7 linked regions of the Homo sapiens genome follow. The protein of the gene in region 4 purifies or fractionates together with the protein of the main gene of each other region. This does not show direct contact. Each region holds a gene or a part of one and is shown on either strand. Other genes may lie near its edges.

Evidence for each region.
Region 1: the proteins of RNH1 (region 4) and ZNF282 purify together in Homo sapiens (affinity purification with mass spectrometry; one large-scale study listed by BioGRID and IntAct). This does not show direct contact.
Region 2: the proteins of RNH1 (region 4) and GSPT1 fractionate together in Homo sapiens (co-fractionation; one large-scale study listed by BioGRID). This does not show direct contact.
Region 3: the proteins of RNH1 (region 4) and SLC25A13 purify together in Homo sapiens (co-immunoprecipitation; one study listed by IntAct). This does not show direct contact.
Region 5: the proteins of RNH1 (region 4) and LRBA fractionate together in Homo sapiens (co-fractionation; one large-scale study listed by BioGRID). This does not show direct contact.
Region 6: the proteins of RNH1 (region 4) and ZNF846 purify together in Homo sapiens (co-immunoprecipitation; one large-scale study listed by IntAct). This does not show direct contact.
Region 7: the proteins of RNH1 (region 4) and SMS fractionate together in Homo sapiens (co-fractionation; one large-scale study listed by BioGRID). This does not show direct contact.

The regions. Positions count from the first base shown.
Region 1 is NC_000007.14:149,197,893-149,202,455, reverse strand, and holds part of ZNF282 (zinc finger protein 282), read right to left. Parts: intron 4,124-4,563; coding exon 3,704-4,123; intron 1-3,703.
Region 2 is NC_000016.10:11,870,269-11,874,831, forward strand, and holds part of GSPT1 (eukaryotic peptide chain release factor GTP-binding subunit ERF3A), read right to left. Parts: intron 2,904-4,563; coding exon 2,851-2,903; 3' UTR 1-2,850. UniProt on the Homo sapiens protein: GTPase component of the eRF1-eRF3-GTP ternary complex, a ternary complex that mediates translation termination in response to the termination codons UAA, UAG and UGA.
Region 3 is NC_000007.14:96,182,248-96,186,810, forward strand, and holds part of SLC25A13 (electrogenic aspartate/glutamate antiporter SLC25A13, mitochondrial), read right to left. Parts: intron 2,768-4,563; coding exon of another isoform or gene 2,765-2,767; coding exon 2,680-2,764; intron 2,189-2,679; coding exon 2,030-2,188; intron 1-2,029. UniProt on the Homo sapiens protein: Mitochondrial electrogenic aspartate/glutamate antiporter that favors efflux of aspartate and entry of glutamate and proton within the mitochondria as part of the malate-aspartate shuttle.
Region 4 is NC_000011.10:499,696-504,258, forward strand, and holds part of RNH1 (ribonuclease inhibitor), read right to left. Parts: intron 2,555-4,563; 5' UTR 2,468-2,554; coding exon 2,367-2,467; intron 960-2,366; coding exon 789-959; intron 305-788; coding exon 134-304; intron 1-133. UniProt on the Homo sapiens protein: Ribonuclease inhibitor which inhibits RNASE1, RNASE2 and angiogenin (ANG). May play a role in redox homeostasis. Required to inhibit the cytotoxic tRNA ribonuclease activity of ANG in the cytoplasm in absence of stress.
Region 5 is NC_000004.12:150,263,365-150,267,602, reverse strand, and holds the end of LRBA (lipopolysaccharide-responsive and beige-like anchor protein), read left to right. Parts: intron 1-1,790; coding exon 1,791-1,881; 3' UTR 1,882-3,168; downstream 3,169-4,238. UniProt on the Homo sapiens protein: Involved in coupling signal transduction and vesicle trafficking to enable polarized secretion and/or membrane deposition of immune effector molecules. Involved in phagophore growth during mitophagy by regulating ATG9A trafficking to mitochondria.
Region 6 is NC_000019.10:9,761,570-9,766,132, reverse strand, and holds part of ZNF846 (zinc finger protein 846), read left to right. Parts: intron 1-1,097; 5' UTR 1,098-1,182; coding exon 1,183-1,197; exon of another isoform or gene 1,198-1,323; intron 1,324-2,671; exon of another isoform or gene 2,672-2,724; coding exon 2,725-2,851; intron 2,852-3,964; coding exon 3,965-4,051; intron 4,052-4,563. UniProt on the Homo sapiens protein: May be involved in transcriptional regulation.
Region 7 is NC_000023.11:21,978,709-21,982,208, forward strand, and holds part of SMS (spermine synthase), read left to right. Parts: intron 1-168; coding exon 169-258; intron 259-3,500. UniProt on the Homo sapiens protein: Catalyzes the production of spermine from spermidine and decarboxylated S-adenosylmethionine (dcSAM).

The sequences.
Region 1 (4,563 bases), on a different chromosome or scaffold from region 4:
CCTGTAATCCCAGCTACTTGGGAGGCTGAGGCCGGAGAATGGTGTGAACCCGGGAGGCAGAGCTTACAGTGAGCCGAGTTCGCACCACTGCACTCCAGCTTGGGCAATAGAGCAAGACTCCGTCTCAAAAAAAAAAAAGAAAAATTAGCCGGGCATGGTGGCACATGCCTGTTATTCCAGCTACTCGGGAGGCTGAGGCAGGAGAATCGCTTGAACCTGGGAGGCAGAAGTTGCAGTGAGCCGAGATTGTACCACTGCCCTCCAGCCTGGGCAAGACTCTGTCTCAAAAAAAAAAAAAAAAAAAAGAAGCATATCTTAAATATTTAAGATGTCAATGGCAAAAGTGCTTTGTAGAAAATTCGAGTAAGGGCAGGGAGACGAGTGTGCTTGGGGGACGTGGTTCTTTCATATAGGATGGTTGTAGAAGGGCATGCTGATGAAGTGGCACCTCAGCAGACCCTGATGGAAGAGGTGGCGAGGACGGCCATGCAGATATTCAGGGCAGGAGCTTCTCAGTGGAGAGTCCCTGAGCTGGGGGCGCACGTGGTGTGCTGGCAGAACAGCACAGATGGGAGTGAGCAGGAGGGAGTGGATGCAGAGGAGGTCAGAGAGGCAGGGGAAGAGAGCGTGGGCCATAAACAGACATGGGCTTTTATTCTAATCAGATGGGAAGCCATTTGGGAGGTGTTTTTTGGGTTTTTTTTAAGACAGATTCTCACTCTGTCACCCAGGCTGGAGTGCAGTGGTAAGATCTCAGCTCACTGCAGCCTCTGCCTCCCAGGTTCAAGCAATTCTCCTGCCTCAGCCTCCTGAGTAGCTGGGATTACAGGTGCCTGCCACCATGCCCAGCTAATTTTTGTATTTTTAGTAGAGATGGGGTTTCACCATGTTGGCCAGGCTGGTCTTGAACTCCTGATCTCACATGACCCACCTGCCCGGCCTTCCAAAGTGCTGGGATTATGGGCGTGAGCCACCGTGCCCAGCCATTTGGGAGGTTTAAGCAGAGGTGTGATGTGACTGCTTCACATTTTCAAAGGATCACTCTGGCTGCTGTGTTGAGATAGACTGTATGGGTGGGGGGACAAGGATGAAGACAATGAGACCCACCAGGAGGCCATGGCAAAAATCAGATGAAAGACCATGGTGCCTGGGACCAGACGATGGCGATGGGAGTGGAGGTGGTGAGGAGTGGCCAGGTTGTGGATATATTCTGAAGAAAAATCAGGGTATTTACTAATAGATTGGAAGTAGGGTGTGAGAAAGAGAGGAGACAAGTATGACTCCAAGGCTTTGGCCTGAGCACTTGAAAGGATGGAACCATCCGTCATCAACGGAGATGAGGACAACTTCAGGTAGAACAGGTCTCAGGCAGGCGATCCGCAGTTCACTTTGGACATGTTAAATCTAAGATTTACTGACATCCAAATGAATTAATAGGTAGGAATGTGAATCTGGCATTCCAGAAAGAAAGCTGGGCAACATATAGAAAGGGAGCAGGGGAGAGAAAGCATCTATTTGGGAGGTGAGAGCATACAGATTGCTTTTAATAATGTGAGACTAGCTGGGCGTGGTGGCTCACGCCTGTAACCTCAGCACTTTGGGAGGCCCAGGCAGGTGGATCACCTGAGGTCAGGAGTTCGAGACCAGCCTGGCCAACATGGTGAAACCCCGTCTCCCCTAAAAATACAAAAAATTAGGTGGGCATGGTGGCAGATGCCTGTAATCCCACCTACTAGGGCAGCTGAGGCAGGAGAATCACTTGAACCCTGGAGGCAGAGGTTGCAGTGAGCCAAGATCACGTCACTGCACTCCAGTCTGGGCAACAGAGCGGGACTCTGTCTCAAAAAAAATAAATAAATAAATAAATAATAAAGACTGTGAGACGGGATGCAGTCATGAGGGAGGAGAGTAAATAAAGAGCAAAAGGCCAAGACAGAGGTCTGGCCCACTCCATGCATTAGAAAGCTGGCCAAAGGAGGCAAAATTGGCAAACAATGAGACACAGCAGCTGGTGAGGTAGGAAAAGACTCAGCAGAGAGAGGTGTCCCAGAAGCCACGGCAAGGGGTTTCACGGAGAGAGTGGTCACCTACACACAATGCTGCTGACAGGACAGGGAGGATGAAGACTGAGAAGCAACCACTGGCTGTAACACCACGGACATCATTAGTGAGCAAAGGCCTGATCAGAGTGCGTTCCAGAGAGAAAGATCCAGTTACCAATCAACTGGAATACTGAGAATAGAGGAACATGTTAAATGAGACCACAGGGGACGTAATCAGTGGAATCCAGACAGCGAGATGCAAAACAGGACAGGTGGCCCAATTCCTTCCAGATAAACTGAAAGGAAAAATAATAGATGGAAGAGATGCCCGCAGATTAAAAAAGACTTAAGAGACATCTCAAACATAATGTGTGGACATTACTTGAATCCTAATTCAAACTAAAAAAATGTTTTTAAAAATTGAAACAACTGAAAATCTAATCACTGGCTAGACAGTGATCTAGGCTGAAGCTTTTACTATGGTGGTGGTGGTAATAACATTGAGATTATCACTTAAAAAAAAAAGAGTCTTTACCTTTTGAGCTAATACTGACATATTTGCAAAGGAAATGACTAATGTCTGGGGTTTGCTTCAAAATAAAATGGGAGTGGGGAAGTGGGCAGGGATTTAGGTGAAACAAGACTGGCCAAGAGTTAGCAGCTAATGCAGCTGGAATTTGGATACATGGGGACCCATTATACTATTCTGTCTATTTTTATTTGAATATTCTATAATAAAGAGAAGGGGAAAAGGGAGGGAAGGAGAGAAAATGGGGAAGAAAGAATTGGAGACAACAAGTATAGACAACTCTTTCAAGGGGTTCTGCTCTAAAGAGGAGTGGAGAAATGAGGCACCAATGCAGGTAGATGCAGGGCCCAGGGAGGTTTTCTGTTAAAGACGGACAGCAGGACAGAACAGTCACATGCTGGTGGGAATAGCCCAGCAGAGGGGGGAGAGCTGATGACTCAGAGGAGAAAGGAGAGAGACGCTGGGGGTGACCTCCTGGGGTGGGCAGGGGACATCAAGCCACAGGAACAAGGGAAAGCAGAGTCTGTGGCCACCGAGCAGCAGATGGAAGAACAAGCTGGCTGCATGTGGACGCCTCTTCTGGGTGACTCCGTTCTCTCAGTGAACTGAAAAGCAGCATTGAGGATCCGGGAGGAAAGCAGGAGAGGGAACGGAGTAAGATACGGAGTGTGCATTCTGAACTTTAAGAAGGGCCCCCCTGAGATAAGTGACTACGACTTGAAAGCAACTCCAGGCAGCCTGGTTTGAGGTGCGACTCCAGCCACATTCCGGTGAGCATATACCAAGACAGCCAATGACACATGATCGCTGGTAGGTGTCAAGTGGGAAAACCAAGGAGTGAAGAGCTGCAAGAACTTGCAGACAACCAGACAACTCAGAGGGGTCTAGGAACAGCGAGAGCAAAGGCTCCCAGACAGAAATGCAGACTGTGGGGAATGAATGGAGTGAGCCTTGCTGGGGTAGAACGTCCAAGACCAGGTTGTTTCAGTGGAGACAGGCTTTAAGAAGACACTGAAATTGGATAACGGGGAGCCAGAGAAGTTTATGAGAAGGGCTGACAAAATGAAATCAAGAATTTTATGCACCTGTGCTGTTCCTCACCTCTATCCCTGCCCCAGGGACCACCACATACCTTGGGGGCCTCCCCCTTGCTGCCCGGGGGCAGCCGCAGGACCCAGAAGTTCCTGTTGCGCAGCAAGTTCTCCAAGTTCTCCAGCCGCCTCTGCAGCAGCCCGTACTCCTGCAGCAGGGTCCCCAGCACGGCCCACTTGCTCTCCATGTGGTTCCCAAATTCCACGGCCGTCTTTTCACAGTCGGCCAGCTTCTTCTCGGCTGTCCCCGTGCGCCCCTCCAGGTTCAGCAGCTGGCTGGCCTGGGCATCCACCTTCCTCTCCACAGCCTGAATGGCAGCCACCACAGTCCAGAGTGAGATCTCTGCTGTGGGCAACTGGGGCTCTCGCATCATGCGGTCGGGGAAGACAGGTGCCCTATCTGGAAAGGGTGGGAACTGAAAAGGCATTGGCCGCCGGGCGTCCATGTCCCATTCTTGAGCCTGTATGCAGAGGGAGAAAGCGACAACCCAGGATGAGACCTTGTGTGAGCCGGGGAAGTCAGCTGGGAACAGGGGTCAACTAATCAGATGCTACATGTCGTCTTTCTTCTGCCAGGCCCCCGTAACTCAGGATACACTAACACCCCCAGCAACAGCTACCCACTCACCCACCCACCCAACTCAACACTCTCCCATCTCCTGCCTAGGTGAGTCAGGCTGGTCACTGGTTCACCCACATTGACCCTTAGCAAGTTAAGGCTGCAACCCCTGCCTAAAATGTCACAGGCCACTTTCTTTGAATAGACCAACTGATTTCTTCAAGGGCTAGCCTTAATGACGAACTTTGTATTTGCCTAGTGTTTTATGTTTCCAAGAACTTTGATGTAAGTTAGCTGACGCTAATCTTCCCAGCAATCTCTCAGCAGGTTAGGGCAAGAATG
Region 2 (4,563 bases), on a different chromosome or scaffold from region 4:
GTATTTCCCCCTCTCCCACAGTAAGAAACAAGGGTTTAAAATGGCAATTACTTAGATGTTTATTTCAATATTTCTTAAATTCACTTTATTAATTTAAAAAACTAAATAATCGCATGAAAGTTATATAAAGAACATCATTAATGTGAAAAGATGCAAGAAAAAAATCATTCTAGTAGAGCAACGTTAGAGAACAAATGCTTAGGTAATACCCTAAATATGCAGCCAACTACCCTATTTTTGCACTGTTGACCATATAAGCACGTTTGCATTTGCAGAAAACAGAATGACAGCATAGGAATTTGTATTGCTCTATAACGGTCCAACATCTCCACATAATGCCAAGTTCACCTTAGACATTTTATTTACTTATCCAAATGAACAGCCTGTGTAAGCAGGATTGAAAATGCATCAACTTTAAAAAGATGAGAACAATTTTCAAAGCCCATAGAACTTATGTTGCTGGTTAATTTTAGCACTGAAATTTCTTTTGAATAATCTAATCTTGCAAATATGCAAGAATCCAGTGGAATTTTTACAGTTACATTTGTATTTGTATGACCTGTTACTTTTTAGAGGTAGGCCCTTCACAGTTGATATCCAAGTTACTTAAGAGTCTTGGCAACATGCACATAATAGTCTAACAGTGTAAATGTTTTAGTAGCAAACATAACTTATTTTTTAAAAATGTGTTCTATTTAGAAAGGGAACTCTTATCTCTGGAAGTGATTTCCGTGGCTCTTGAACTTTTAAATATTCATTAAAATTCAAGCAATTGCTAGTATTTGTTTTTATTAACATGGAATTACAAAAAGAACTATTATGTTTTGATTAAAGCTCCTATATTTTCCAGAAAAATAAAAGCCCAGAGATTTGCAGACATAATAAAATCTATTTAAATTTCATGCAATAGCCATAATTATAGTTTTAAGAATCTGTAGGACAATAACTTTGCTCTGTCCATAAGATGTAGCCTCATTCAAGAAATGAATGGGAATTTCACAGTTAAGAAAACACTAGGCCAAGTGCGGCGCCTCATGCCTGTAATCCCAGCACTTTTGAGAGGCTGAGGCGAGTGGATCACTTGAGGTCAGAAGTTTGAGACCAGCCTGACCAATAGGGGGAAACCTCGTCTCCACTAAAGATACAAAAATTAACTGGGCCTCGTGGAGGGCTCCTGTAATCCCAGCTACTCAAGAGGCTGAGGCAGGAAATTGCTTGAATCCGGGAGGTGGAGGCTGCAGTGAGCTGAGATCGAGCCACTGCACTCCAGCCTAGGTGACAGAGTGAGCCTCTGTCTCAAAACAAAACAAAACACCCATTAGATTAAGTTTTATGTTCTGTGACTGGAAATACAGTCTGTCTAGGCTTTTCTTTTCTGAGGAGCAAAATTATAGGGAAGAGACTTGTCATTAAATATACAAAGTATCTTATTTAGAGAGAAATCACAATCTAAAAGAGGCTATCTTTGATCAATGGCAACACTCAACATCAAGGGGGCTTTGGATAAACCCACAAATTGCCTCCATTCCTCATTTATTCTCATGAAAAATTTCAAAGTCATGATAATTATAGCAGAGAGTCATTCAATCTAAAACCCACACAATGCTGCACTGTGGTTCATCAAAAACATGGTTAGCAAATTTCAGCTTTACACTTAAGAAAACTCAGTCAATTTCAAATAATTGAGATAAAACTTATACCCTGCTTGATTCTGCTTATCGCTGATAATTTTAGTCTGTTCAGATTCTGATGATTCTAAATATTTTCATTTAGTTGCTAGGTTGAGATTTAGCTTTAACCAGCAAGGATCATCCAACCTTTAAAGTTACTGATACAAAGAGTAAACTGAGTAACTTGTAGAAGTGGCACTTGCAACTGATACGGTTTTCATACTAGAGGCATGCAGCTCTATTTATAAATACTACCAGAGGAATTTTTGCCAGGTCTCAAACATGCTTTATTTGTTGTTAATTCCACTAATTTAACAAGTTAATGGAATTTTCTCTAGGGGTACAATTTCATTACGCTTTACTTATAAAAACTACAGTATGCTGTTCTTTTATTTTAAAACAACTTACTGTGTTCAAGAAATCATGTTACAATATAAATTGGCAAAAAAAAAAAAAATAAATAAATAACTAAAAGACCTAGTAAAGCAGTGTCACATTTGCATAAAGGGATTTAACTGCATGTATGCATTAACCATCAAAAGAAGGGGTCAAACTAATCCTTTCCTTTAATACAAACTTGAACGCTGTGAATGTCTCATTTATAGTGGGTAGGGAAAGAGTTTATAAAAGTCCAAGTAATAAAATGTATTCAATTACTTGGGAAAGTTAAAAAGCTAATGCAACAATGTTACATCCAGATAAAAAACATTATTCAAAAGCAATTCAAATACCGAAAAGGATTTCAAATTGAATATTTTATTAACATGGTAGTTGCCTTTGTAACATGTGCACACACACTCGCACACTCAGAATGATCTGCCTGGGGGAAAAATACTAAATATGCCTAAGGGGAAAATGAAAAATAAAAAAATTCCTGTAGGTTTTCATTATTGTAGGCAATTATGTCCACATCACTTACAAAGCTATTGCCAAATCTGTCCAAGGAAGCAGAGTTTGAAGTGAGGGCTAGGGACAGGAATCTTGGGAAAAATTCAACAGTGGCATAGCAGAGCTCTCAATATGAGAAAGCTGACATAATGTGGACTTTTGCTGTGAATTTCCTCTTTGCAAAATATGGGGAGAGGTTTATCAATGGGCAGAAAATAAGAGAAGGCGGTGTGAAGTAGGCTTCTGCAGTCAATTTTCCTCACAGTATTGTGCAGGGTCATCAAGAAAATGCTTAGTCTTTCTCTGGAACCAGTTTCAGAACTTTTCCAATTGCAATGGTCTTACCTAGAAATGAAATTTTAAAAAAATCTTTCAGTAGTTAACAGCAAGTCTATATAAGATATTAAAACTTATTATTTTAAATCACAAAAATATTTTTTACAATGTAAGTTACTAATTAACTAGCTTTACTGCCAAACCCATGATACTTCTATTTAGGTAGTCTTAATAAGAGGGTCTTATTTGGGGGGGCTGGTAAAGAGATGGTTCCCTGTATCAAAAACCTATCTCCCCCCGTACCCCCCAAACAATTCTCCTGCCTCATCCTCCCCAGTAGCTGAGATACAGATGCCTGCCACCACGCCCAGCTAATTTTTGTATTTTTAGTTGAGACGGGATTTCACCATGTTGGCCAGGCTGGTCTTGAACTCCTGACCTCAGGTGATCCACCCGCCTCAGCCTCCCAAAGTGCTGGGATTACAGGCATGAGCCACTGCATAAAGACAGAGTCTTACTCTGTCACCCAGGCTGGAGTGCAGTGGTGCGACTTCAGCTGACTGCAACCTCCTCCTTCTGGGTTCAAGTGATTCTCCTGCCTCAGCCTCCTGAGTAGCTGGGAGTATAGGTGCTTGCCACCATGCCCATTCTAATTTTTATATTTTTAGTAGAGGCAGGGTTTCACCATGTTGGCCAGGCTGGTCTTGAACTCTTGGCCTCAGGTGATCCGCCTGCCTCGGCCTCCCAAAGTGCTGGGATTACAGGGGTGAGCCACCACACTGGGCCAAAAAACCTCTTTGGATTAAAAATAAGAAAAGGGAATATCCGTATTTGTGGAATATCCACCCAGTGGAGTACTATTCAGTGATACAAAGGAATAAATAACATGTTACATGGTTGAACCTCAAAATCACACTAAGTAAAATAAACTAGACAAAGGACCACATAATTTATAATTCTATTTATGGAGTGTCTATAAAAGACAAATTGAAAAATGGTTGCCTGGGGTGGAGGTGGGAATAAGGGGTGATTATGAACAGGTGTAAGGTTTCTTTTTAGGTGTTCTAAATGTTCTAATATTAGTATATGGTGATGGTTGTACAATTCTGTAAACATACTAAAATTCATTGAATTACATACTTAAAACAGGTCAATTTCATATTATGGAAATTGTATCTCAATAAAGCTGCTAAAAAAAAAAATCCCAAAACCTATCCTTAAGTAACTGTGAAAAGGCACAGCAATCACCACTGACTACAGTGCAGTGAACACGTCCTTCTGGTAGTAATCCTGTGGACTGAAAGGATACAAAACCCATTGGGTCTTGTGGAAAACCTAAAAGCCAAGTTAGCTTTTTTTTTTTTTTTTTTTTTTTTTTTTTTAAAGCCAAGTTAGCTTTTAGGAAAAAATAATTCTAGGGTTAAGAATTCCTGCTACATTAATTGCTTTTCTTCTGTCTTCCTGATTTTATCAGGTTCTGAGTGGTAAACTAAAACTATCATTTTGTTATATTAATAAGATAAACCCAATAACCAGTTTTACTATCAACCAGAAGAGTTCTGGGCCTTTAAAGTAAAATAAACACTGTCTTTATACAATTTCATCCAATGTAAAGTTCAGGAACTGTATTCATCACCAGGGCTTAGCACAGTTCCTGACACTTTGTAGATACAAAGTAGTTTTTGCTAAATGGAATTGGAATGAACATGTGAAATGACTATTCTGTATT
Region 3 (4,563 bases), on a different chromosome or scaffold from region 4:
CTCAAGATGATCCAAATTACAGAATGGGACTAAACAAAAATTTTACAGTAAATTTTTTGTTTTAAAATGGTTTACCAGAAAAGATATCAGGAAGAAATGAACACAGGTGACTCCTAGAACTAATCTTATATTCACACTCTACTCATCATCCTGACAGACAGCTCTGTCTCTTGCCCTTAAGGTTGGGGCACCCAAAGATAAATGGCCATTTCTAAACCAGGAAAAGGGTGAAGAGCTGCCACTTGGGTGTTTACAGTGAGCCTCTGTCTGTACCTAATATATTGACTTACTACTCCTCTGAGAAGTTAAAAGCAGTCACTCTCATCTTACAGATAAAAGAACTGAAACGGCAAGAGTGGAAGCCTCTTTGCATAGCCCACATTAGCTCAGCACTCAGTACTCAGGCACACTTCTAGTTGCCAACAGTACAGGTTGCAAAAGGGAAATATAGACGTAACCAAAAATCAGACCTGCCAGGTATGGTCAAAGATCGAGAAAAAAGGACTCAAAATAAAAAATCAACTTAAGCAAATTAAAGACACTGAGCAGTGTTGGGAAGCATTCTTACAATTCTAAAGGCATCCTTGACATTTAATCTAATACCAAGAAAAGCCCAAAAAGTAGTTTATGAAGCAATGCTCAGATGTCTGCCCAGACTTGAGACTCGAGATTTCCCTTCCAAAAACCACCCATATGGACAGGTAAGGCGGCCAATTTTGCCTGACTCACTGCAGAATAGGAACTGTGACATTAACCTTGTACTACTTGGAAGCCATTTCATTTGCAAAGTTGTTGCCATCAGGGAAGAAAAGCATTTCAAATGGAAGGCAGTGACCCTGAAAGGGTCATCATCAATCACCTGAGGTCAAAGACCTTCCAAATTGTAAGAAGAGGCAGGGGATAAGGAAAAGAGGGCAGAGCAAAGATCAAAAGGCCTTTGATGGGGGCTACCTACCTACACAATAGGACCTGCAAAATGGAACTTCTCTGGAGTTTGAGACTTTCTGGCTTCTAAGGTGAGAGGTTTCAAGAAAGGTTTATCCTTTTTGTTTTTTTTAACTGGGGTAATTAATTTGAAGACTAGAGTCAGCAGATGGCAGAAGAGGCCCAGAGGCACAGGTTTCCATGTCTGCCAGTTTCACCGTCCACCTCAGCAGAGTACTAAATACTGTTTTCTTCATCTAGAGAGAGCATTAGTAGGGGAGAGGAGGGAAAACTCTGCCAGCTTTGCCGCTGCCAAATTATAAAGCAGCTGAGTTTGAACTGCCTTGTGATACTGTATTTTAACTGATGCAGAAACACTGTTTCCTTCTCGTAGAAGGCAATCCCCGAAAGAACAGTTGAGAAGTCTCCTTCGGCCAATGCCAGTGGAAAAGCAGTCAGGGTCTGTGGGATCCTTTCCATCAGTGATGACATACTCTCTGCTACTACTTCCATTGCTTAATGAACCTTAGATGGTTAAAGGAAAAGGTGGAGAAAGAAGGATTACCTGTTTCAGGCTGTCTCAGTGGGGGGAAACCTTGGCTAGAGGGGTGTGTGAATCAACTCCATTGGGTTGAGAGTCAGATGAAGAAAAGGGGCAACTTTAATTCAGGATGAAGCAGCAAAAGAGAGCTCTACTGAACCCTTCGTTATCTTTTTTGTGGTGTATTCCAGGAAAATCATGAATCCTGAGTAGGCTTTGTCCTGGTGGCAGAATACCTTTCCCTGTTAGCTGGAGAATAGAGTACTTCAAGGATGCAAACAATGTGAGCCTTTCAAAAATTCACGGAAGATGCTTATAAAAATAATTTATTATTTTAAGAAATAAAACATACAACAGAGCACTATAAATAATTTTCAGATTATGGGCTGTTTTGATTAGCCAAGCCCTAGATGCCTCCAGCCTACTCCCATTAGCATGGATAATTGAAAATCTGCTGTATTTCCATTTTAACGCAGTCTTGCTAATTCATGTCAGGCACTAAGATGAGAAACCAAACCTTTGAGTGTTATTTCACCTAACAGGTATTGAGCATGTGGCACTAACCTCTATACAGTCCAAAGAAGCCTTCATAGCGTAGCACTTTCTTAAAACAGTCAAAGCTGTTTTTATACATGAGTTCTCCCACAAAAGAGCCAGTTGATCGTTGGTTCTGCATTCGAGTTTTTACAAGATCGATAGGATACACAGCAGTGGCTCCAACAGCTAAAATTAAACAATATCATTATCTCAGAAGAAAGTAAGATAGGTCAGAAGAAAGAAGAAGGTAGTTAAAGTCAAGGACAAGACTGAGAAAAGAAATGTGTTTTGAATTTTAAATACAGATTTTAAAACAGTACTACCTTTCTTATATCTTTAATAAACAATTGAGGGTTTTCATTCAAGTATCCCCTAATAAAAGGATGTCATAGATATTTTAAATTAAGGCACATTGCTACAGCCCAACCTCATTAGTAACCTGTCTTTGGAAGGCCTGATCTGTAGATAGAGGAAAATGCCACTTGTAAGTCCCTGATCACATGCAGGTATGGGAAAAGAGTTCCCTTTACTCTTGCCCTACCTCACAGGTAGAAACTGATAACTGGCATTGGGAAAGACTAGAGAAGACTTTGTCCTTTAACATTTCAAGATGGAAAATCAGAGAAAAGAGAATAGGAATAACAAAAGTGAAAATTTTTCTCTCATCCATGACTAACCTCCAGCAACAGAACCCAGACCAAACCTGTAGGCCGACTCTGCAACTTGTAGAAGAACTGGTCGAGCTGAATCACCTGAGGCCTTCTGCTTTGCATGCACAGGAATCAGAGAGCAGGAAAACAGGTGACAGAAAAGAAGATAAAACAAAAATGACCATACATTAACTTTAAACATTACTCATTGGGTTCTAAATCCATGATACAACTAAAATGTCAAGGAAAAAAGTAGGAATGGATTTCATAAGTTCTTATTAATAAAAAGATTTTAGTGCTATTAATGTTTAAAACCAAATTTCAATATAATCAAAACCATCCTTTGACAAAAATGATGTTATAAGCCTATTTTCAAATTCTCATTAAAAAAAATGCACAGTTAAAAACATCACTGAGGCCAGGCACGGTGGCTCACGCCTGTAATCCCAGCACTTTGGGAGGCTGAGGCGGGCGGATTACCTGAGCACAGGAGTTCAAGACCAGCCTGGATAACATGGTGAAAGCCCATCTCTATAATATAACACAAAAATTAGACCAGCATGGTGGCATGTGCCTGTAGTCTCAGCTACTCAGGCTGAGGAGGGAGAATCACTTGAGCCCAGGGGGCAGAGGTTGCAGTGAGCTGAGATCACGCCACTGCACTTCAGCCTCGGCAACAGAGCAAGACTCTATCTCAAAAATAAAAATAGGTCGGGTACGGTGGCTCATGCCTGTAATCCCAGCACTTCAGGAGGCCGAGGTGGGTGGATCATGAGGTCAGGAGATTGAGACCATCCTGGCTAACATGGTGAAACCCCGTCTCTACTAAAAATACAAAAAAAAGAAAAAAATTAGCTGGGTGTGGTGGCAGGCGCCTGTAGTCCCAGCTACTTGGGAAGCTGAGGCAGGAGAATGGCGTGAACCCGTGAGGTGAAGCTTGCAGTGAGCCGAGATCGCGCCACTGCACTCCAGCCTGGGCAACAGAGTGAGACTGTATCAAAAAAATAAAATAAAATAAAGTAAATAAAGCAAATAAAAACATCAATGAGACATCATTTTTCATCAATCAAATTGGCAGGTTTTTGGTTTGTATGTATTTTTGTTTTTGTTTTAAGTGGCAATACCCAGCCTGGCAAAAGTTGATAACAAGCCTTCTGAAATTTGCCATTAAAGCAAGCATAAATAGAGAGATGTTTAGTAATATACACCCAAACCCTTAAAATGTACATAACCTCTGAAGTTAGAATAGGCTGGGTGCAGTGGCTCACACCTGTAATCCCAGCACTTTGGGAGGCCGAGGTGGGTGGATCACTTGAGGTCAGGAGTTCGAGACCAGCCTGACCACCATGGAGAAACCCCGTCTCTTCTAAAAATAAAAAATTAGCCGGACGTGGTGGCGCATGCCTGTAATCTCAGCTACTTGGGAGGCTGAGGCAGGAGAATCACTTGAACCTGGGAGGCGGAGGCTGCAGTGAGCCAAGATCGCGCCACTGCACTCCAGCCTGGGCAAGAAGAGTGAAACTCCGTCTCAAAAAGAAAAAAGTTAGGATAGAAGATAATCATGCATGTAACAAGCTACAAGAATGTAGCACTTAAAAAACATTTGTAGTACTTATTGGAAATTTCGATTATTTCCCAAATTTTTGCTCTTTAAACAAAAAGAACAAAAATTTGGGAAATATTCTAAATGTCCAATAACGGAGGACTATAGCCTTTAAAAATAATAACTTTAAAACAAAACCCTATCATTCAAAATGATACTGTAAAAGAATATTTGATATTAAATGTTCACAAGGAATTATAAAAGAAAACATAGGCTAAAAAGAGCATGGTAAGTAGATAGGTATTTGTCATATGATTCTTTGTACCTATTTAAATGTTTGACCTATTTCCTGGTAATTTTTTTAAAAA
Region 4 (4,563 bases):
AAGGAGAGCACCACAAGGCCCCTGTGACCTGAGTCCCCTCCTCACGGCTCCTGGCAGGCGATGTTCTATGTAGGGGGCTGGCTGGGGGACAGGCAGCGGCCAGCATGGGCCCTGGGGCAGGACACAAACTCACTGCAGCTTTTCCAGGCGGCACTGGGGGTCCAGGAGTCCTTCGCAGAGCAGCTGCAGGCCCGCATCCCCCAAGAGGTTGTCGCTGAGGTGCAGCTCCTGCAGGGTGGGCAGGGTGCGTAGTGTGCTGGACAGGACCCCGCAGCCGGCCCCCGTCAGGCAGCAGTTCTGGAGGCTGGAGCATACCTGGCTGTCAGCAGGGCTCCCCTGAGCCAAGCTGCCACGCCCTTCGCCTGCCAGAGCCCAGAGCCCGGAGCAGCACTCTTCAGGCGGCAGGTCTATACCTGCTCCTTCCCTGGACGGGGCTCTGGGGTCTGGGGTCTCCAGGCCGAGTGAAGGAGGGCACGCATGTGGCTCGACCCAGGGAAACCTTGTCTGCAGACACACCTTTCAGTGGGGGTCTGTGGTGATGCTGGAAGGCTAGGGATGGCGGGCAGGGCCAGATCTTGGGTGCGGGGGCTGGGATAAGGCAGGAAGGGCCCTGTCCCCCCCGCTGTGAGACCGCCAGGCCTGTGTGCCTCTGGCTGATGTTGGAAATGTCTGCTGCCACTGCCTGTCCACCTGCAGCTGCCCACGCGCCCCTGGCGGCTCTGTCCCCTGCTGCCGGGCTACCAAAGCAGACTGCACCAGGCCAGAGGCAGTGCCAGGCCCCGCCTCACCTCAGCTTCTGGATCTTGCAGGAGGGGGTCTGCAGGCCCTGGAGCACGCAATGCACGCCGACATCGCCCAGCTCGTTGCTGCGCAGGTTGAGCTCTGCCAGTGCAGGGTTGACTCGAAGTGCAGAGCTGATGTCCTTGCACCGTGCTTCCGTGAGGCCACAGTCGTCCAGCCTGTGAGCAGACCCCAGGGTCATGTGGACCACGCAGACAGCACTGGCCTCAGCCTCCACCACCACCCCACGTGCAGGTTACAACCTATCAGTGGGCCCAGAAGACAGCAAGGCAAGTCACACAAGACATTTCAGAAATGAAACAAAAAGGAGGAACTGTTCCATGAAAGTTTTGTTTAAGATGCTCGCACGTGGCCAGGCGCGGTGGCTCACGCCTGTAATCCCAGCACTTTGGGAGGCCGAGGCAGGCAGATCACCTGAGGTCGGGAGTTCAAGACCAACCTGACCAACATGGAGAAACCCCGTCTTTACTAAAAATACAAAAGTAGCCGGGCGTGGTGGCGCATGCCCATAATCCCAGCTACTCGGGAGGCTGAGGCAGGAGGATCACTTGAGCCCAGGAGGTTGAGGCCGCATAAGCCATGAGGGAGCCACTCCAGCCTGGGTGACAGAGCAATGCCCTGTCTCTAAAAATAAAAAGAATTTAAAGTATCTCTCGAAGGCACTGATCAGTCACAGGAGGAAAGGCAGTGGCGTCACAGTGGAGAGGGTGGCAGACGGCGCCTGTGACAGGACGCTCCTGGCAGGCCCCACGGCATCTCCCTGCATTCCTGCCAAAACTGTAGGACTTCAACCACAAGAAACCACCAGACAAGCCCCAACAGAGGACGTCCTGCAGGAGCCTGGCCAGACCCTCAGACCACCAAGAACCCAGAGAGACGAGGGGACAGTCACAGACGGGAGAGGGCTAAGGAGACAGAGGGCTGAGGGCCACGCAATCCTGGACCAGTGAGGAAGACGAAAAGGGCAGGGCGGAAAAGCAGACCCTGCCTGGAGGTGCTGGGCCAGAGCTAGCGTCCGCAGGTACACAGGACCACCTCACCAGGGAGCCCCGTCCGGTCCTCGTAACTCCTCCGCAAACCTGACACTACTTGAAATCACCAGGTAAAAAGAGAAAAGATGCGGCCCACCCAGGCACTCGTGTCCTGCTTGTGAAGCTGCTGGGTTTGTGAGGACCTCGAGGGCCGAGGACTCCCAGCCCCCAGCTTGGCAGGGACAAGCAGCGCCCCATGGAGGCTCACGGAGGGGACCCAAGCTGTGTCCTGCCCTCGTGTCTCCAAGGGAGGGAGAGGAGCTGAGACACCGGAGCCAGAGACCCACTGGCCAGTGGCCGCCCACCTCGGCCCGCCCACCTCAGCCCATGCTGCATGAGCCTGGAATGGGTTTTACATTCCTAAATTGTCAAAAAGAAACACAAGAATCACATCTCATGCACGTGGTAGCTGCACAGAATTCATACTTCATGTCCACAAACAAGGCGTTCCAGAGCAATGCACCCTTCAGAGGGAGCCGCCACCCGCCAGCCTGCCCCACCAGCACCCCAAGGCCACCCCGAGAGCAAGCGTACCTGACCACTTGGCACTGCTGGAGCAGAGGGAGGAGCTCGGCCCATCTAGCGTCGCTCAGCTCCTCACACTGGATGTCCAGGCTCTGGATGTCCAGGCTCATGGTGGAGGTGAAGAGTGGCCTGGGTGGGAGGCAGAGGGAAGAGGACGTCTTGGCCGAATCCCCTCACAGTTTCACAGGCCGGAGATTCTGCAAACAGGACCCACAGGGCTGATGTTTCAGGAGGAGCCGCAGCCTCTCCCTGGGCAAACACTTCCTCTTCAGCACCCTCCCCACCTTTGTCTCTGGAGCAGACATCAGGGGTGGGGCAGGGGGCAGGGACCAGCACCCACCCCCAGAAAGGCCACCATGGGCAGCAGAGCTTGGGTAATGCAGATGCCAGCCCATCTCCTGGCTATCACCACCCAGCCTCTGTGGGCACCTCCTCCTGCCCCACAGAGGGCGGGACAGCAGCAGCCCGGGAAGCCCCTGCCTCTCATTTGCTTGGGCAAGGACAGGGTAGGGTGGGGTGGTCTGTGAGCCTGGAGGCCCCAGCAGGGGAGCAAGGGGGTCTGTGGGCTTGACCTGTGTCTCACCCTCAGGACAGGCAGACTGTGCGGGCCAGGCAGGCTGCCCACAAAGCCAGAGACCTCCCAGGATGCCAGGATCCTGGACCCGGCCACAGTGTCCGAAGCAAGACAGAGCAGGGGGGCGGCCACTTGGGGTGTCAGCTTCCATGGCCCCCTTCTGGGGTTGGGGACTCTGCACCAGGCTACAGCACATCCCCTGCCCCACGGCACACTAGCCCAGAGGCTGGGCTACCAGGCAAGCTGGGTGGGTCAGCCTGGGATGGGCACAGCTGCTACACCCTGAAGCCTCCCCAGGCACAGGCCCTGAATATGGAAGGAGGTTCCTGAGGCCCTGAGAGCACAGCTCAGGTACCCGCCAGGGGCCTGGGGAAAGTGGTCAGGCAGAGACAGCCACCCCAAACCTTGGTTGGTGGATACATTCCCTGAGCACCTGCCAAGCACTGGCCTGGGGACTACAGCAGGGCAGGAACCTGGAGAGGAGGCTTGGATGGCCAGGAAGGCTCCCTGGAAGCAGCAGCACTGATGCCACAATGCGGGGAGGGGTGGGTGGGGTGGGGAGAGGGCTCTCATCCAGAAGCCCCAGAAAGTTGGCAGGATCCACTTGGGGAAATGATGCAACCCCAGCTGCCCTTCAGAAAGACGGCCAACAGGACCGCTTGAGAGGCTCCTGGTGCCCTGACACCCCCAGCTTCCTGAGTCTGTGTGCCTGGCACTCCTCTCCCCGGGGCTGCTTCAGAGGCGGCTGGTCCACTCTGCATGAGTGGAGGCAAGAGGCCCCTGGTACCAACTGGGAGGAAAGACGCAAGGCTGGGCTCGGGTCCACACGCCTGGGCGCCCGGCCTGCAAGGACAGTGGCAAAGGGTGGTGACATCCCACGGCCCCACATGGAGGAACTGAATCCAACCGACCCGAAGCACGTGAGCAAAACCGACCAGGGTGTGGTCACCCAAATTCTGACTCCAGAATCTAGTCATCAGGAGGCACTGTGGGCGGGAGGGCGGGTGGAAGGAGAGCCTCAGGGGGCTGCCCAGGGTGCACACGCTCCCCAAATCCAGCCTGACACTCCTGTGTCCTCTGCAGCCAGATGAAAGGTGGCCCCAGGGTGTCCTCCTCCTGGGAAAGCTTGGTGGGAGCTCAGGGTGGCCAGTGCTCCCGTGACCATCTGCAACTAGCGCTGCGGGAGTAGCCCCGTCCCTACCCCTCAGGCTTGGCCAGACCCTGTTGTATCCCAGAAAGGCCCTTCTGAATCTCTGTGGGTCACGGATCCCACTGAGGACCCCATGAAAATGCGGGAGTAAACGCCCTTCTCTGTGACTGGAGAAGTCCCTGGCTCCCTACACAGCCAAAGCTAAAAGCACATTCAGGAACCCACTACCACCAGCTGGCAGCCTGCTTTGGTTGAGGCAGGGATCTGAACAGAGGCCCTAACGGTCCCTTATCCGGAGACCAGACTTTCTCAACCTTACGGAGGGAGGTCTCCGCAGCACCCAAGGCCTGGGCCCCACCCTGGGGAGCCACATGGGAGGGGCCGTCTGGAGGCCAATTCAGGTCCTTATGTTCCGACGTGACGGGGGCGCGGGGCCACCCTCTAGGGAGACACGGGCCACGCTCAGGCGACGCGCAAAAGTT
Region 5 (4,238 bases), on a different chromosome or scaffold from region 4:
TAAGAGGTAAAGTTAGGTTATTGATTTGAGATATTTTTAAATCTATGTGTTTACAGCTAAAAATTTCCATTTTAGCATTGCTTTTGCTGCATTTCATAAGTTTTGGCTTGTTGTATTTCCTTTTCATTTGTCTCAGTATTTTCTGATGTCTCTTATGTTGTTGTTTGTTTTTTTTGACTCATCATTTATTTACTTTCCACATATTTGTGAATTTTCTAGTTTACCTTCAGTTATTGGTACCTAGTTTCATTCTATTATGATCAGAAAAGCTACTTTGTGATTTTAATCTTTACTAAGTCATTAACACTTGTGGCCTAACATATGGTTTATCTTGGAGACTATTCCATGCGCACTGCAAAAAAATGTATATTCTATTGTTGTTGGGAAGGTGTTCTATATACGTGTGTCAGGTCCAGTTGGCTTATCGTATTGTTCAAGTGTCCTGTTTCCTTATCTTCCACCTGGTTGTTCCACCCATTATTGAAAGTGGGGTATTGACGTCTAAAACTATTACTGTAGAACCATTTCTCCCTTCAATTCTGTTAATATTTGCTCTTTGTATCTTGGGGGTCTGATGATAAATGCATATATAATTGTTATATTTCTGTGAATTTACCCTTTTCTCAGTGTAGTGTCCTTTGTCTCTTGTAACAGTTTTTGACTGAAAGACTATTTTGTCTGATATTAGTGTAAGCCACCTCAGCTCTCTTTGCTAGTACTTACACGGAATATCTTTTCCATCCTTTCACTTTCAAGATGTTTGTCTTTAGATCTCAAGTGGGTCTCCTGTAGACAGCATATAGTTGGATCATGTTTTTTATCCATTCTGCCAATCTCTTCCTTTTGGCTGGAGAATTTAATCTCTTTAATGACTGATAAGGAAAGACTGACTTTTGCCACTTTTCTATTTAATTTTCTCTCTGCCTTAGAGTTTTGTCTCTCATTTCCTCCTTACTGTCTTCCTTTGTTTTTAGTTGATTTTTTTTGTAGTGACACATTTTAGTTCCTAATTAATTTTGATACGAGGTACTAGGAAGGATACTGAATATGGCTTCTAAGGGCTGGTCCTAACCAAACTACACAGAGAAAAATCTGGCTATGCTCAGTTTAGGTTCACCTATGTTCTCCATCTCTTTCCCTGCACCACCTCTTTGGGGACAGGAGACCAAGAAGCTTGCAGAAGTTCTTATCTTCAGTGATTTCGGTGAGTTACTGTGTTACGAGGACTAGGTCCTCACCCAGAGCATGATGGACATAGACTACTTCTCCACAGAGGGGAGACCAGCTTAAATTATGGTCAACAACACTCTTCTTTTTCACTCTTCATTGATTCTGTACCTGTCAGAGGTGGTGTCTCTTGTCACTTGAGTGTGTGCTGCTTCTTTCCACCAGCAGTTACTTTGAGATTGTGGTTCCTTCTTTTGAGTCTGTTGCTTATATAATGGATGGGTCTTGCCAGCCCAGTCCCCCTTTAGAAATTACCAAATCTGTTCAGATTTTAGTTACAAATCTGTTCAGATTTTAGTTACTCATCCTGCACATACCAGCTGTCCGTACCCTTTCAATGAAAAAGCAAGCTGTGGCTTGGATCCTTGTGGAGTGTCAGAGGCAGTACTCTGAGCTTACTCAGGGATACATTTTAGTCATGAAATACATACCTTAGTTCCCACAAATTGGAGCCTTCACTGCCAGCTTCTATATTTACCTTGTGGATTTGGGGAGAGCAGTTTTTAGTAACATCTCTAGGACACACAGGTTTGTAAAAGTCCTTCTCTCTGTGCTTCTCCTAGGTGCATCATTTCTGGCATGGCTTCAGGAAGCATTGTGCTATTTTACAACGACTTTAACCGGTGGCATCATGAATACCAAACCCGCTACTGATGGTGACAGCTGTACATCAACTCTGCCCCTAGGATGAGCAGAAGTACCTGGAGCATCATTCTCTTCTACCACATCTGAATGTAACTTAAATTTGCTCAAAGAAGCAAAATATTTTTTAAAGTTATTAATAATTGCTATTTTTGTAGTCTTTGCTTGACTTTTTTGGGGGGGATTAGCAAAGCAGAAAACTGGCTGCTGGGTTCTGTAGTTTTAAAAAATCTATATTTTTAGTCATAATGAGAAGTCTATTTTCACCAATTATGGAAACATACAGTGGAGCAAGTAAACCACTTATTCCAGCTATAATATTATGAAGAACATTTCCCATGCATCTACAAGCTTGAGAAATAGGATTTTCACAGTGGGGAAGTGGGTTACAATATTGGAATAGGAAAATTTGATGCTGTAATTTGGGTCCTGTATTTTTCCAAACAACTGTGCTTCTTCAGCACTAATATTTCTGGGATTTAAATAGTAATGTTTAAATTATGGTAAATGTAATTTAAAACATCTCAATTAAGTCTGTCTATCAATATTGTTCTTCAAGCATGTTTTAGACCTAGAAAAGTATGGTTTGGGGGAGGCTATTTTATTGTGTGGTTAGCACAAGGAATCTAATTTATAGCAAGTGTGAAATAGTTACCATTTTTTCCTGATCTGTCATCTTCATAGCACAACAAAACGAAATGATGGAAATGCTCTTGAGCTCACAACATTTGTTTTTCTTTTAAAGTAAATGCAAGTACCAAAGCTCACTACTGCGGTTTGCCTGTGCCTGGACAATGAGGCGGAGCCACTGTTGTTTTGTTGGGGCACCCCCTTCCCTCCCCGGGTTTGCAAATAGAGGCTACCGGGTGCTGTATTCAGCAACACCTGTTTTACTATTTGTTATTAAACTATCATCTCCACCTTCCTTTTGATTAGCAATTTGTACTAAGAAACGAAACAATGTTATTTGGTGGTGTATAATTCTACTTTTCTAGTAGATTACTGTGTGGAATTCTGTGAAAAATATTTGAGAAAAGGCCTGTATTGCATAAATAAATTCTTTGTATGTTGTGAACTTTGATCTCTATTTCTCTTGCAACAGACTTCAAGTGGTCCCTCTTTTTTTCCTACACACTCAGCTCTTCTCTAAAAGCAAGGATTTGGAATGAACAATTCAGTTTGACAGAAAAAGCTGAATAAAATGGCATCTGTAATTGAATTGTTGGAAATGCCTTTTTTGCTCCTAAATTTTAAACATCATTAATAAAATAATGATTCACAAAGAAAGAAAATGTCAAACTCTGATTCAGTCCTAGTTTTTGATCAATAACCAATGTGAGAGATCCTCCTGACTGAAAACAGGAAAATGAGCTTTCTTTGGCCAGATCTCTCCTCTTTCTTACTGAGACTCACACAAATGACCTAGACCTGAATCTTACAAATGCCTAGCAAGGAACTTTATGTACCACTTCATCTGAGATCCATCATTAAGAAAATAAATAGACGACGGTGAAATGTGGGGGAGGGAAAGTACATTTTAGAATCAAAGAAATACCCAAGTTGCTGATAAATTAATTAACTGATGAACATCTTCACTGTTTGTTTGTTAATGTCCTCATTAACTTGTGAATATTACTCTTTGAAAACTTCTTAAGTGAACAATGGTAAAAGAAAATACCAATACCTAAGTCGTGCCACACAAATGATACTTCAACCACCCTATGCTTAACAAGCCTAAAGCAAAGCTCCTCTTGAAACCTAAAAGGAAAAAAAAATCAGTATCTCCACTACCTTTATTGTTTTAAAAACTTACGACTAACGAAAATTAATTGAAACATAAGTTGGCCGGGTGCATTGGCTCACGCCTGTAATCCCAGCACTTTAGGAGGCCGAGGCAGGCGGATCACTTGAGGTCAGGAGTTCGAGACAAGCCTGGCTAACATGGGGAAACCCTGTCCCTACTAAAAATACAAAAAGTAGCCAGGCTTGGTGGTAGGCGCCTGTTAATCCCAGCTACTCAGGAGGCAGAGGCAGGAGAATTGCTTGAGCCTGGGAGGCGGAGGTTGCAGTGAACTCAGATTGTGCCACTGCACTCCAGCCTAGGCGACAGAGTGAGACTGCATCTCAAAAAATAATAATAATAATAATTAAAATTTAAAAAATAAATATTAAAAGAAACAATACTTCATGAAACAAATAAGGCTGGCATCAACACATGGGCTTCTTAATGACAGAATCTGTTCAGTAATAACATTTACAGTTTATTCAATATTTACTTATTCAATTTTAACTAACTCCTTAAAAAGGCTATTACTTTACATAAATGTAAGCCAGCTAAGAAAAAGCCAGCTAAGTGAAAGTAGAGGTGT
Region 6 (4,563 bases), on a different chromosome or scaffold from region 4:
GGCATATTCTTCAGCAAAGATATGAACCAAATCACAGGTGGATGAACACAACAACTTGGGTGCACCTCACCAGCATAATGCTGACTGAAAGAAGCCAGACACAAAAGTATTCTTACTGTCTGATAGTTGCTAGGCAAAGTCAACTAGAGTATTTTTTCTTTTATTCTTTGTTTTCATATATGTGTATATATATATATGTATATTTATTTGTTTATTTATTTATTTAATAAAGAGACTTGGTCTCACTATATTGCCCAGGATGGTCTCTAACTCCTGGCCTCAAGCATCCTTCTACTTCAACCTCCCAAAGGGTTAGGATTACAGGCATGAGCCACCCCCTGGACAATTAGAGTATTAAGTGTCAGAATAGTATTACAATTGGGAGGCATGCCATGGAAAAGACTATGTCTGCAATGCAGGGTATGGAAATGCTTTATTTGTTTGTTTGTTTGTTTGTTTTGAGATGGAGTCTTGCTCTGTCACCCAGGCTGGAGTGCAGTGGTGCAATCTCGGCTCACTGCAAACTCTGCCACCTGGGTTCATGCTATTCTGTTTCCTCAGCCTCCCCAGCTGCTGGGACTACAGGCACACGCCGCCATGCCCAGCTAATTTTTTTGTAGCTTTAGTAGAGACGGGGTTTCACTGTGTTAGCCAGGATGGTCTCGATCTCCTAACCTCGTGATCCACCCGCCTCGGCCTCCCAAAGTGCTGGGATTACAGGTGTCAGCCACCGTGCCTGGCCTACTTTTTTGTTTTTTAAGATGGAGTCGCACTCTGTCAGCCAGGCTGGAGTGCAGTGGCATGGTGTCGGCTCACCGCAATCTCCACCTCCCAGGTTCAAGTGATTCCCCCACCTCGGCCTCCCGAGTAGCTAGGATTACAGGCATGCACCACCACACCTGGCTGGTTTTTTTGGATTTTTAGTAGAGACAGGGTTTCACCCTGTTGGCCAGGCTGGTCTCAAACTCCTGACCTCAAGTGATTCGCCTACCTTGGCCTCCCAAAGTGCTGGGATTACAGGCATGAGCCACCATGCCTAGCCTGAAATACTTTTTCTTTGATGTATCCAACTGACATGCCATTATTCTTTTCCAAAGGTCATTTTTTCCAGGACACTTTCTGTCTTCATGACAGGAACATCGAGAAGCCAAGGCTAGTGGCTGGGTTACTGATGGATTACTGATGGATTCTTCTCAGGCAAGTGGAAAGCAGACCTAACTTCAAAATGTTATGCTTGTAGCCATCATCGGTAGCCTTACCTTGTTATCGTGTATTCAAGCATCTTAAAGAAATGATGGTCCTGCTCAGGAAATAACTCCCCAGGTGAATTTCTCTAGGAACCAAGCCATCTCAGGTTGTACAGAGATTGCAATGGAAGTGTATTGCGGGATCTGGCCAGCAGCCCACAGTGCAACGGGGCTCTCTCTTTGTTCCCAGGCAGATTGGCAGGTTGAGAAATAATAGACACACACAAGATAGTGAAGGCTGGGTCCAGGGGGGTCACCGCCTTCTGGTCCCACAGTGCCAACAATGCACTGGATATACCAGCAGTTATTATTAAGCTTAGTGAGGGCGGGGGTAGGTTAGTGAGGGATTTAGGGTCATTTGATTATGAGGTGAGATGGTCACATGGGGATGAAGTAATTCTTTAACATAACATTTGTATGTAGAAGTACAGTACATTTGTATGTAGAAGTACAGTATACAGAGACAAGAATTTAAAATATAGTGTGTGTGTCAGTAATTTCTAACAGAGCCTTAAAACAGAAACACAATCTTTCCATAACCTATGATTAGCAAGATATTAATCAGCAGTAACAATTGCCACAAATGCTGGTTAGAAACAATCCATGGAAACAGGATGTGAAGCTAGACAACTGGTTAGACCAGAAGTTCTCAGAAGGGAGTATGCCTTAACTTTAAAGAGGCCTACAAGAGCCGTGACAAGATGAGGGCGTTTATCCATATGGACAGGCACCCCCCATGCATCTGTTTATAGGCTCTCCACAAGGGTCGCATTCCATTCCCAGAGCTATGAACATCTGCTTTTCTGGGATAGGAATCTTGGTGATGTGAAACCTCCCTGACTGCACGTCCATTCATAGGCTCTGTGCAGGGGGAAGCACATCACACGCTGTTGGCTCATTCTGGCAGTCCAACCTGGCATTGTCTTTACACAATCCTGCATGCAATTTTGTATTTACAGTAATCAGGAGCATTTCATCTTTTATTCTGTAGCAATAGTTTCAGTGGGTCTCCCTACAGAAATGATTATTTTATCTCAATGTTTACTAATTCTTTCTGATCCTCAATCATGCTTGTTGGCTCATTGTTTTGCTGAGTGTTATGACAGATTGTAAGAAAGGGATGGAGATGTCTAATCTGAAGGAATTTGTGTGTCACTGTGGAGATAATTCATTTGTTATTAGATTTTACATAGTGCTGCAACATATTCAGTGCAGACTGCACCTATAAATAGAGGAGGACTAAGGCCAGAAGAGCCCATTGTAAAGCTGTAGGAAGATCAGTTTAGTCATGTTTCAGTGATGCTGATAAGTCCATGGGATTGGATGCCATTGCAAGACAATATCTATATAGAGGAGAAGAGGCCTGAGGCCTGGGAGTACTGCAGGCTTCTAGTCTTCCTTAGTCCTTCATGCATTTTTCTCAGAACATCAAAGGAGATGGTACTTAGCTGAAGCTGGCATGTATTTAATGGTTTAGCACTTAGTGACCTTTGAGGATGTGGCTGTGGACTTTACCCAGGAGGAGTGGACTTTGTTGGATCAAGCCCAGAGAGATCTCTACAGAGATGTGATGTTGGAGAACTACAAGAATCTCATTATACTAGGTAAAACTGGCATCATTTCTTCACTGACCCCTTTAGGAAATCAATGTTTCTTAAATGTTTGCTGTCAAATGAGGGTACTGTAATAAGCAAGACAGGCATGGACCTTGGCCAGTGGACATTCCTTTTTTTTTTTTTTTGAGACACAGTCTGGCTCTATTGCCCAGGCTGGAGTGCAGTGGCATGGTCTCTGCTTACTGCAAAGCCCCCCCTCCTGGATTCAAGTGATTCTCCTGCCTCAGCCTCCCAGGTAGCTGGGATTACAGGTGTGCACCACCATGGCCATCTAATTTTTGTATTTTTAGTGGAGACAGGGTTTCACCATGTTGGCCAGGCTGGTCTCAAACTCTGACCTCAGGTGATCCACCTGCTTTGGCCTCCCAAAGTGCTAGGATTACAGGCGTGAGCCACCATGCATGGCCTGGGCATTACTTTATAGAACAAGCTTGTAAACTTTCTTAAAGCATTATGAGATTTATGCACAGACCAGTTTTTTTGTTTATTTGTTGTAGCTCATCAGCGATCGTTAGTGTTAGTGTATTTTATATGTGGTCCAAGGCCATTCTTCTTCTTCCAGTGTGGCCCACGGAAGCCAAAAGATTGGACACCCCTGGTGTAGAGGATTCCCCATGAAAATAAAGATTTAAGTAAATGAGTTTATTTAATGTATGGATTAAAAACTTTAAGACTTTAAATGTGTATGAAGTTGGACTTGGTTTTCCAGGCTCAAGCAATTCTTCTGCCTCAACCTTCTGAGTAGCTGGGACCACAGACCTGTGCCAGCATGCCCTGCTAATTTTTGTATTTTTAGTAGAGAGGAAGTTTCACCACGTTGGCCAGGCTGGTCTTGAACTCCTAACCTCAAGTGATCTCCCTGCCTTGGCTTCCCAAAGTGCTGAGGTATGAGGCATGAGCCATTATACCTGGGCAACATTTTTGTTATTTTAAAAATAGTTTTAGTGCATGTATTGGAAATGTTATATGATTAGTTTGCTATTTGTAAAGTTACACTTGACCATCTTTAGAATCCCCGAAGGCAAAAGTATTGGTTCCCCATTGAAGGACATGGTGTTATGTCTTGCATGGGCCTCTTCTTTTGTGCATTTTTCCCTCCAGCAGGGTCTGAATTATTCAAACGTAGTCTCATGTCTGGATTGGAACAAATGGAAGAGCTGAGGACAGGAGTGACAGGAGTTCTGCAGGGTGAGTTCATAAGCAGATGTGGTATTATGGCACTGCTGTGCCACCCTAGGAGACATGCAGTACATTGGAAATGTTACTTTGCGAACTTCTCAGGGTATACTCTTCTTCCTGAGAAGGCTGAGGCCATTTGGTTTCCTTAGATACTTTCAACTCCCCTCATCTTTAAATTTCCATTGATCTTCTCAACCTCTTTTCTGTTCTCAGAAAGGTTTGTCTGCCTTATTTGAAAATTCCATCTTATGCATGTAGGTCCTTTGCCAACACCTTCTTATATTGCTTTCTTGATTCTCCCATCTTTTTGCTTACTACCAGCCTCAGTTTTCTGCATATTATTAGTTGGATAATAAGTAATACAGGTTTTTTTTTTTTTTGAGATGGAGTCTTGCACTGTCGCCCTGGCTGGTGTGCAGTGACATGATCTTGGCTTGCTGCAACCTCCACCTCCTGGGTTCAAGCAATTCTCCTGCCTCAGCCTCCCAAGTAGCTAAGATTACAGGCACCTGACACCACGC
Region 7 (3,500 bases), on a different chromosome or scaffold from region 4:
GAGTGTCCTTAGTGTGAAAATAAAGTCACTGCCTCATTCATCATTTTGTTAAATTTGTGATACCCAAGTTAGTATTATAAAACCTTTGTTTGTCTTAATCCTTTCTTTAAAGTATTACTATTTCAGAATTCTTTGATATACCCAAATTCTCCTTAACCTGTTGCGGACATTGACCAAATGGTGATTGATGGGTGTAAGAAATACATGCGAAAAACGTGTGGCGATGTCTTAGACAATCTTAAAGGAGACTGCTATCAGGTAATTGTTTTCTGGATAATGTAGTTTTAAGTGAACTAATAATATAAGTTATTGATCAGAATTGTGCCTTATTAAAACAGCTTTTAGTATAGTTGGTTGAGAAGATAAATACATCATCTGTCTCTTCATATGAGTTATATGTATATTTGTATTTAGGGTGCACACGTACCAATGATGGGAAAGCACCAACTCCAGATTCTCTGAATTAAATAAAATTAATTCTTTTTTTTTTTATTATACTTTCAGTTCTACGGTACATGTGCAGAATGTACAGGTTTGTTACATAGGTATACACGTGCCATGGTGGTTTGCTGCACCTATGAACCCATCATCTAGGTTTTAAGCCCTGCATGCGTTAGGTATTTCTCCTAATGCTATCCTTCCCCTAGCCCCCTACCCCCGATCGGCCCCGGTGTGTGATGTTCCCCTCCCTGTGTCCATGTGTTCTCATTGTTCAGCTTACACTTAGGAGTGAGAACATGCGGTGTTTGGTTTTCTGTTCTTGTGTTAGTTTGCTGAGAATGATGGTTTCCAGCTTCATCCATGTCCTTGCAGAGGACATGAACTCATTCTTTTTTATGGCTGCATAGTATTCCATGGCATATATGTGCCACATTTTCTTTATCCAGCCTATCCTTAATGGGCATTTGGGTTGGTTCCAAGTCTTTGCTATTGTGAATAGTGCCGCAATAAATATACGTGTGCATGTGTCTTTATAGTAGAATGACTTATAATCCTTTGTATGTATACCCAGTAATGTGATCGCTGGGTCAAATGGTATTTCTAGTCCTAGATCCTTGAGGAATCGCTACGCTGTCTTCTACAATGGTTGAACTAATTTACACTCCCACCAACAGTATAAAAGTGTTCCTATTTCTCCTCATCCTCTCCAGCATCTGTTGCTTCCTGACTTTTTAATGATGGCCATTCTAACTCCAGCTTGGGCTGCAGAGCGAGAATGTCTCAAAAAAAAAAAAAAATCTTAATAAAAAAAAAAACCTTAATAATAATAATAAAAAAGAAACCTTAGTAGTAAAAATCAAGTAGTACACAAAGCTAAAGATTGCTTTTACATATGTACAAAATTTCCAAGTAAAATAATAAGCTAAATCTGGCAAATTAAGTCTATATTATGCTCAAGTAGGATTTAGTTAGAAGTGTAAAGATTTCAATTTTAAGAAATCTGTCAACTTAATTCGTTAGGTGAATAATTTAAAGGAGGAAAATAACAGATGACAAAGAATTTGAGAATATTTAGCAGTCATTTTAAATAAAAACTAATGCAGTATAGCCATGTAAAATTAGCCAGGTGTGGCGGCGTGTGCCTGTAATTCCAGCTACATGGAAGGCTGAGGCAGGAGAATCGCTTGAACCCGGAAGGTGGAGGTTGCAGTGAGCTGAGATTGCACCACTGCACTCCAGCCTGGGCAACAGAGGGAGACTGTCTCCAAAAAAAAAAAAAAATATATATATATATATATATATATTTCCATCTAACAAATCTGTACATGTACTTCCTGAATCTAAAATAAAAGTTAAATTATAAATTACTTGAATAAAATAAAATTGCAATAGAGATGAAACTACCTGAACGTTAATAGAAACTTAGGTTGTGGTAAATAGAAAAATAGAAAATATAATAGATAGCAAAAGCCATTTCCACTGAAAATAGGAAGAAGATGAGGATGCCTATTATCTTTTTCAACATTATTTTTTGAGGTAGCTGAGATAGTAAAGTAGATGAAAACAGTATAAATCTAATTATTTGTAGATGATGTGAATACTAGAAAATCCAGGAAACTTACGTAGGAAATTATTTGAATTAATGAGAATTTGATAAAGTGATTGGATAAAGCCAGCCTAGATTTTTTCTCTATACTAAATGCTAACTCATTTAAATAGGATTTCCTTCCCACCCATTTCCTTTCAAAGTAATCAAGTGTTAAATTCCTAGGAATATATTTAACAAGAATGGTATTGTGAGACTGGTATGAATTATGTTAAGATGTTATTGAAAGACATCAAAGTCTGAATATGTGGAGAGGCATGCTGTATTTCTTGTATTGAAAGAACAGGCCGGGCTTGGTGGCTCACCTGTAATCCCAGCACTTTGGGAGGCCGAGGTGGGTGGATCACTTGAAGTCAGGAGTTGGAGAACAGCCTGGTCAACATGGTGAAATCCTGTCTCTACTAAAAATACAAAAATTAGCCCGACGTGGTGGTGGGTGCTTATAATCCAGCTACTCTGGAGGCTGAGGCAGGAGAATTGCTTGAACCCGGGAGGTGGAGGTTGCAGTGAGCCAAGATTGCACCACTGCACTCCAGCCTGGGTGGCAGAGCAAGACTCCGTCTCAAAAAAAAAAAGGAACAATGTCTATTCTTCCCAATTTATTATGAGTAATCCCAAGGAGGGGGGAGGGGTTTAAAAGTAGACCAACTGATTTTGAAGTTGATTTGTAAAAATAAGTATCTAAGAATACCCAAGAAAACTTGAAAAAAGAATCATAGTGTGAAGCGAAATATGTCCTATTTGTTGTTAATGTACTATAAGGCACGATAATCAAATAGGAAGTATGAAAGGAATACACAAGGACCTAGGAATGTCAAAGGAACTTGAACAGGTCTGAGTATGTATTCCTACACACTGCTAATATGGTCTAAGATACATTTCAGTTGACTTGGGAAAAGCGTTAGTTGAGTTAGTGTGTGATGCCGGTATAAGAAGTTATCCATCTGCATGAGAACCAAGTTAGCTAACAATAGAAATAGGAATTTTGGTGACTTAGGCTCTAAATGTAAAAACTAATACATTTAAGACAATTTAGAGTACTTAACCTTGGAGTTCAGAAATCTCTTAAAGATAGGACACTCAAACTGTTAATGGTATTATAATGTTGTCATTACCAAGCCAAAAGTCAGACTAGAAGAAAGACTAGTAACAAGCATGACAGGGAATTGATCCCTTGAATAATGCAGAGTCCCTACAACTTAGAAATGAAGTTAGCTAAATTTAAAAAGGTATAGAGGATATTTACTGGTACTTCTCAGAATAAGTCAAATAACCTGTAAAAAGTACCACAAGACAGGCCGGGCGCGGTGGCTCACACCTGTAATCCCAGCACTTTGGGAGGCTGAGGTGGGCGGATCACGAGGTCAGGAGATCGAGACCATCCTGGCTAACATAGTGAAACCCCGTCTCCACTAAAAAAATACAAAAAAAAATTAGCTGGGCGTGGTGGCGG